2 linked regions of the Homo sapiens genome follow. The protein of the gene in region 1 interacts with the protein of each later gene in a pairwise test. Each region holds a gene or a part of one and is shown on either strand. Other genes may lie near its edges.

Region 1 (3,818 bases):
TGGTTTTTTAAATCCCCTATTTTGTTTGGAGTCACACAGGGATCAAGATGATTCAGTTTTCAAAAAATAAAGCAAAACAGATGGCACAGCTGGATGGCTGCTGTGTGCGTTCCTCTCTCCCTGCCCCTCCCCTGGTGGCAGCCCCCTCCCCCACTGGGTGTGGCTGGGATAGGCGGATAGAGAGGGTGTGTCTGTGAGCGAATGGTAATGATAAAACAGTAAACAAAAGATGCTCCTGTCCTCCTGGGGACACCAGGGGGAGAAAGTCAGATAGAGGAAGAGGCAGCCAATAGGAAGGAGTCCTTTCTAGTTTGCTTTCTTGAGTTCTGTGACAGTTAGAATTAGGTTTGGCCGCAAATACCAGGCTATCCAGTATAGTGGCTTATGGTCCAGAGATTTTATTCTGTTATCTAATGGAGGTTGGGGGTGGTCCCCTGAGGTGGGCCTGGAGGCAGGCGGGGATAGTGCATCCCAGGACCCCTGGGTAACGGAGCACGGCCCAGAGCCTGCTGGCCTGACGCCCTCCTGAGCCTGAGCCCTCACTGACAGGTCCTCGCCTTCCTCCCCACAGAAGGGCTTTCGAGGAGGAAGAAGACGTCGCTCTGGTTTGTGGGGTCTCTGCTGCTGGTGTCCGTCCTCATAGTCACCGTCGGGCTGGCTGCCACCACCAGGACGGAGAATGTGACCGTTGGGGGCTACTACCCAGGGATCATTGTGAGTGCGCCGGGCGGGCGGCCTGGGCCGGGGAGGGCAGGGTGGTGTGTGGCTCTCTCAGGGTGGAGTCCACGCCAGCTCACAGGGCTGGGGCTGAAGGTGGGGAGGCTTCGATCAGTGCTTGTGGTCGGCAGGGTTATGGCCCCCACAGACATGCACTTCCCAATCCCCAGGACCTGGGACAGTGGCAGGTCCAAGGCAGAGGGGAATTGGGGTTGAGGTCCAAGTTGATCTCAAAATAGGGCCAGGTGCCCTCCATTGTCTGGGTTGGCCCGATGTGGTCACAGGGTGACCAGAGGGCAGGAGGGGGGCCAGAGCCCGGCAACAGGAAATGTCCAAGGTGGAGGAGGGGCCAGGAGCCCAGGATGTCCAAAAAGGCCGGACAGAGCCTCCCCAAGCATCCTGGAAGGATTTTACCCTGAGGGACCAGGTCGACCACCATAGCCCATGGAAGGGGAAAGTAACTTTAAACGATTCCTACCAAGAAGCCGTGGGTCAAAGATCGTATTAGTGACGTGATCGCGTGGGAACGGCCAGAAGGTGGTGGTGCTGACCTCATCCACCCGTCAGGCCAGATTTTGAACAGTAAGGCGGCGAGGTAAATTGATGGTAACCTAATTGGCAAGAATTGGTCACCCAGATTCAAAAGTATCAAGGTTTTTTGAACTATGAAATTACATCCTCTGTCGTTAGTAAAAGAATTCTCCTAAGTGCCTGCATTCTGCACAGTGAACCTCTGTTGGAATGGCTTGGATCAGCTGCGATGCCCTTCACATGCCCCAGAGCCTGGTTGCTACGTCATAAAGTGCTAAAGCAAGATTTTAAAATGCGGCTTCTTCAATCTCATTACTCTCACCTAAAGTACTACCAAGATTGGTAATAATATTGATGACAATCAGCAAAGATGAAAGATTTTTGGCCCTAAGTATTTAGAAATATTTTACAAATACTGTTTATTTCACCATTATATTTTCCTTTGTTTATATCTTAGGGTGTGCCTTAGACATCTACACTATCTACCTGTGTATAGTTTATGAATAAACATATACAAATAGTATCTATGCAGAAAAAGCTTTATCAGTAAAATTGCAAGAGGCCAATGGTGTGGGGACCTTGGCCTCATGTGAGGGGCTTTTCTGCTTCCTGGGCAGAAAGGGGAGCCCAGAGGGCAAGTGGCTGTGAGGAGGGACCTCCAAGTGATTTGCGAAACATCAAGATCAGCCTTGAGTGGTTGTTTTTTTTGGTTTGTCCTCAAGCTTATTTAAGAGCTGCCTCAGAATAACATAATGAAAAACATCAATGGCTAATGCCCAAGCTATGCTCTGTAAAGAATCTACCTTCTGGGCAATGAATTAATGCTGTGCTGACCAGATTGAAATGGCCTGTAGTACAGACAGTTCTGAAAGCAAACTAGGGAGACAACAAATAAAAGCAGCTTCAAGGAAACGTGGCTAAGAGTCACTTCTGTGGAGACTTTCTGCCAATGTAGAGACTTAAGAAGCTGATCTCAGAAGAAGCGGCCAGAACGTGAAAACATCTCCACATTTTCAAGAAAGGTGTGGTTTTTTTCAAATCCCCAAAAAATAAAACGTAGTGTAACAGATGTATTTTAATACATGTATATCGAAGTGAAATTTTGATATTTTTGACGTGTGGAGTTGAACTGCAGTATTTTGAAGCTCAGCACATGAAGAAATATTCCTGTTATCCCTGGAGAATTCTCAAACCGTTGGTGAAAGCCACATGTGTACGTGTCTATCACCACAGACACACAGACAATTACAGAAAAGGCAAAACTATTTACATAAAGAAGTCCGGTTTCCAGTGCATTAAACTTGACACCACGGCCCCAGCAACTCCAAGGCTGTGCCGGGCGGGCCACCCCTTCCAACAGACACTCACTGGGAAGTGCGACCGGCCCGGCGCACCTGCGTGGGAGCAAGAGCCGTCTTAGGCCTCGGCACGGTCGTTGGCAGGTCCATGTTGGCTGCTCTGAGCCAGATTTTCGGTGGGTGTTGCTGAAATGCATGTTCTTCACACTGATTTTAAAAATTCCTCTGCCAGGTGGGCGTCACCTGCCAGGACGGGCCCTGGGTGGAGGGTGCGGATGCCCGGCCGGTGGCCTCTGTTCTAAGACAGCACAGTCCCATGTCTATTTCCCGACATCCCAGTATCATTTTCTGCCCAGAGCTGGGGCTTCCTGTGGAGTAAGGGGGCTCTGCCGGACCCCTGGTGGCCTGTGCTGCAGCCCGGGGCCCCCTCTGTGCCTGGCCCAGGTGCCCCCTCTGTGCCTGGCTCAGGTGCCCTTTCCCCACACCTGGCACCTCCCTGCTAACGGTCTGCCCTGCTCACTCTCCCGAAGCAGCAACCAGAGTTAGGCCGTCTGAGCAGGGGTCACTGGTGGCCCTTGTGCCTGGCAACCCTTCTTTTGAAACACGGCTGTAGTTCCCTAATACCTTACCCAGGAGCCATGCTCAGGGGCATCTCAGGCCTGGAGAAGACGGGACAGATGGTGGTGCTTGGTGGCCCTGGGTTCCCGAAAAGATGTTGTCTCTGGGGGAGGAGTGGGAACTTCTCTTACCCCAGAGTCACAAGCCAAACAGATGCATCATTAAAAACCTCTGAGCAGAGAAGACAGGACAGGTGATGTTGCAGAGATGCCTGCCCAACGCCAGCAGACGCACCTGCTGCTCAGTGGTTGAGGTTCTTGAGGTAGGGATGTCTGGCCTTCGTCCCTGGATAAAATGCCTTTGAGGGCGGGATTATTTGCTTTAAATGTCAGTGTTAAGCTTCTAGGCACGTTAATGAGTGTTTCTCTCTCGTTCTTCCTTTGGTTTTAGCTCGGCTTTGGATCTTTCTTAGGAATTATTGGCATCAACTTGGTGGAGAATAGAAGGCAAATGGTAAGAAAGTACATGGGGTGGTGGGGAGCATGAGTCCCTCATCAGGGGATGGTACAGCTGCACTGGGGCTCTGAGAAGAGTCAGCCCTGCCTCCCCAGCACACTGGTGTCTACAGGACCAGCTCTGAGGTTCCCGGGCTGTGGCCTGCACAGTCCTGGATACAGGGTTCAGCGAGTACCATTCACACCTTAGTCTAAGCGA
Region 2 (3,818 bases), on another chromosome or scaffold:
GGAGTCCTTCATGGTGTTAGACCATAGGTACTGTTGACTAAAGAAAAAAAAAAGTTTTTGTTTTTATTTTTGTTTTTTTTGAGACAGAGTCTCACTCTGTCACCCAGGCTGGAGTACAGTGGCGCGATCTCAGCTCACCGCAACCTCCGCCTTTCTGGGTTCAAGCAATTCTCCTTCCTCAGCCTCCTGAGTATTTGGATTACAGGCGCCCACCACCACGCCTGGCTAATTTTTGTATTTTTAGTAGAGACGGGGTTTCACCATGTTGGCCAGGCTGGTCTCAAACTCCTGACCTCAGGTGTCCTACCTGCCTTGGCCTCCTAAAATGCTGGGATTACAGGAGTGAGCCACCATGCCCGGCCAAAAAAATAAGTTTTTAAAGAATTAAAGGTCATCCTGGCTAACACAGTGAAACCCCGTCTCTACTAAAAAACACAAAAAAATTAGCCGGGCGTGGTGGCGGGCGCCTGTAGTCCCAGCTGCGCGGGAGGCTGAGGCAGGAGAATGGCGTGAACCCGGGAGGCGGAGCTTGCAGTGAGCCGAGATCGCGCCACTGCACTCCAGCCTGGGCGACAGAGCGAGACTCCGTCTCAAAAAAAAAAAAAAAAAAAAAAAAAAAAAGAATTAAAGGTGTTAATTTTATTTAGAAGCCTTACTGAAGACTACAGTCGGAGGCCTATAGCCTGAGAGCAGCCCTTTAGAGAGGTTCAGTTGAACTGTTCTGATAGTGGGGGCCATGTGCTCTATCCTGTATTGTCTTCAAAGCATCTTTCCAGAGAGCTGCACATTGTCACAGAGTCAGGGACTTTGTGAAATTATGCTGACAACCAGAAGTGAGTAAACGTGGCTTCTTACATTTGCTACGTTGTCTCACAGTACTTAATAAGTATGCAATATGTAAGTAAATACTATAGTACTATTGCAACTCCTGATTGTTTTCTTAGACAAGGAATTGGGCCCAATAAAAACCCTCTTGGTAGGCATTCAGGCTTCGTGTACCATGAGCTTTCCTAAGGGTATCCTGCCACTCTTGGGGAAGGCATGATAGATGAGGGGAGTAAGGATAATGGAACTCTGGGTACAGGGTTCCTGGGGGCTAACTTAGAGGTAGACACAGGCAATGCTAAATATTTGGGATTGATTTTATAGAGGTTGCTAGATTGTGAATTTCCTTAGTAAGGGCTAAGGCATTGATATGTAATGTCACACTTGGCTCCGAGGCTGGGTTGTTGGATCCATGTAGATGAAATCAGGGAGAGAAAGGGCAGAACGGAGTAATTTAGAAATGTATTGATTTGTATTACTCTCTGTTGGCTTGCTATTCAAGGCAGTGGAGAACTCAATCACATAATAATCTGCAGCAAACCACAGATCATCCCAGGGAATGAAGTTTTAACATTCGCTGGCTCCCTAACTCCTCACCCAGCCTTTACATTCACTGGCTGTTCAGTCCATGCCTGGACATCTTAATTTGAATACAACATTTTAAATCCATTTTTCTGTCATCATCTTGCACTAACAGACAATTCTACACTAAGCCTATGTTTATGAATATTTCTCAAGAGTACATGTACACAGCCTTCAGTATAAGGAAAACTGGAAGTATGACATACCTCCAGTTGTCATACTCCTTGGGCCCCTCTTAAATTCTCATTAAACTGCAGGATAGGCAAGTCAGAGGTGAATCTCAAATACGAAATTCTTACCGGAAAGGGGTTCCAATCCAGACCCCAAGAGAGGGTTCTTAGATTTCTCGCAAGAAATAATTCGGGGCAAGGCCACAGTGCAAAGCAAAAGCAAGTTTATTAGGAAAGTAAAGGAGTAGAGAACAGCTACTCCATGGAGAAGAATGGCTTGAGCTGCTCCACCAAGGGTATTTAGAGTTACTTCTTGATTATATGCTAAACAAGGGGTGGATTATTCATGAGTTTTCCGGGAAAAGGGTGAGCAATTCCCAGAACTGAGATTTCCTCCCCTTTTTAGGCCATATAGGGTAACTTCCTGCCATTGCCATGGTATTTGTAAACTGTCATAGTGCTGGTGGAAGTGTCTCTTAGCTTGCTAATGTATTATAGTTAGCTTATAATGAGCAGTGAGGACAACCAGAGGTCACTTTCATCACCATCTTGGTTTTGGTGGGTTTTGGCCGGCTTCTTTACTGCACCCTATTTTATCAACAAGGTCTTTATGACCTGAATCTTGTGCCAACCTCCTATCTCATCCTGTGACAAAGAATGCCTTAACTTCCTGGGAATGCAGCCCAGTAGGTGTCAGCCTTATTTTACCCAGACCCTATTCAAGATGGAGTTGCTCTGATTTAAACGCCTCTGACAAAATGACGACCTCAAAACAATCCAGCTTTATGGAATACCTCCACAAGAAAGAAAGTATACTTAGCTATAGAATTTTCTCCTTGCATCCAACAGGCTTTGAGATGTCAGATGTTTCCTTCCTGTCCCATGATTAATCCTAGCCATTCCTCTTTCTTGTCTGGCTCCACTACTCCTTACCATCTAATGCCTCGCCACCATTTTGATATTTTGACTAAGTGAGCTATGAAACACACCTACTGGATATGAAAGTATAAGTTTCTGATAACAAAACATCAACATGGGATGTGGAGGAAGTGGGTAGGGTGGCATTAATGCAGCAAATCCTGGAATATTTTAAATCTTCATTCTAAATTTAGTAAAAATATAGGATAATTTTCCTGCCATCATTTACTTATAAAATTAAAATTTTAGAAAATAAAAATAATATTTTCCTCTTTTTAATCACAGATTATGGCCTGTATTGGAGACAGATGAAGTCGTAAGAAGTCTGATAGATGGAATACTTACCAATAAGAAAATGATTTTTGTTCCATCGTATATCAATATCTTTCTGAGACTACAGAAGTAAGTACAGCACAGAACACCCAAATACTAAAACACCAATAGAGCTTTTTTTTTTGCTTTTTTTTTTTTTAGACAGAGTCTCACTCTGTCACCCTGGCTGGATTGCGGTGGTTGCAGTGGCATGATCTTGGCTCACTGCAACCTCCGCCTCCTGGGTTCAAGCAATTCTCATGCCTCAGACCCCCAAGTAACTGGGATTATAGGTGTGTGCTGCCACACTACACCCAGCTAATTTTTGTATTTTTTGATAGAGACAGGTTTCCCCATGTTGGCCAGGCTGGACTCGAACTCCTGACCTCAAGTTATCCTCCTGTCTCGGCCTCCCAAAGTGCTGGGATTACAGTCATGAGCCACCATGCCTGGCCCAATAGAGCTATTATTATGGAGCATCTTTCAGTTGTGAAAATTGGCATGGAAACTCTCCATCCCTGGGGAGAACAGTTATTTCCTCTGTTATTTTCCTACCCAGTCTATAAAAAGAGAGTGATTCATTTTCTCTACCAAATCTACTGTCTCTGCCCAAACTTTGCTGAAGACTATTCTAACTAAAGGAAACACAGTTTAAAAAGAATGCAATATAGTGAAGTAGTTAATAATAAAGACTCCATTTTTAAAAGTCTGCTGGAAGTTTGGTTGGGATTGCACTGAATCTATAGAGCAATTGGGGAGTATTGACATATCAACAATATTGAGTTTTCTAATCCAAGAACATAATATCTATTTTTAAAATCTTCTTCAAAATCTTTAAATCTTTAAATTGTATTTTGTAGTTTTTGGTGTTTAAGTCTTGCACATATTTTGTCAGATTTATTCCAAAGTATTTCACGGGTTCTTTTTTTTTTTTTTTTTTTTTTTTTTGAGACAGAGTTTCACCCTTGTTGCCCAGGCTGGAGTGCAGTGGCGTGATCTTGGCTCACTGCA

Evidence for each region.
Region 2: the proteins of TMEM255B (region 1) and HSD17B13 interact in binary tests that used the Homo sapiens proteins (3 or more experiments, as listed by UniProt).

Annotation. Positions count from the first base shown.
Region 1 is NC_000013.11:113,765,544-113,769,361, forward strand, and holds part of TMEM255B (transmembrane protein 255B), read left to right. Parts: intron 1-571; coding exon 572-714; intron 715-3,554; coding exon 3,555-3,617; intron 3,618-3,818.
Region 2 is NC_000004.12:87,309,322-87,313,139, reverse strand, and holds part of HSD17B13 (17-beta-hydroxysteroid dehydrogenase 13 isoform A precursor), read left to right. Parts: intron 1-2,780; coding exon 2,781-2,897; intron 2,898-3,818. UniProt on the Homo sapiens protein: Plays a pivotal role in hepatic lipid metabolism. In vitro, it catalyzes the oxidation of a variety of lipid substrates, including 17beta-estradiol, retinol, retinal, and leukotriene B4.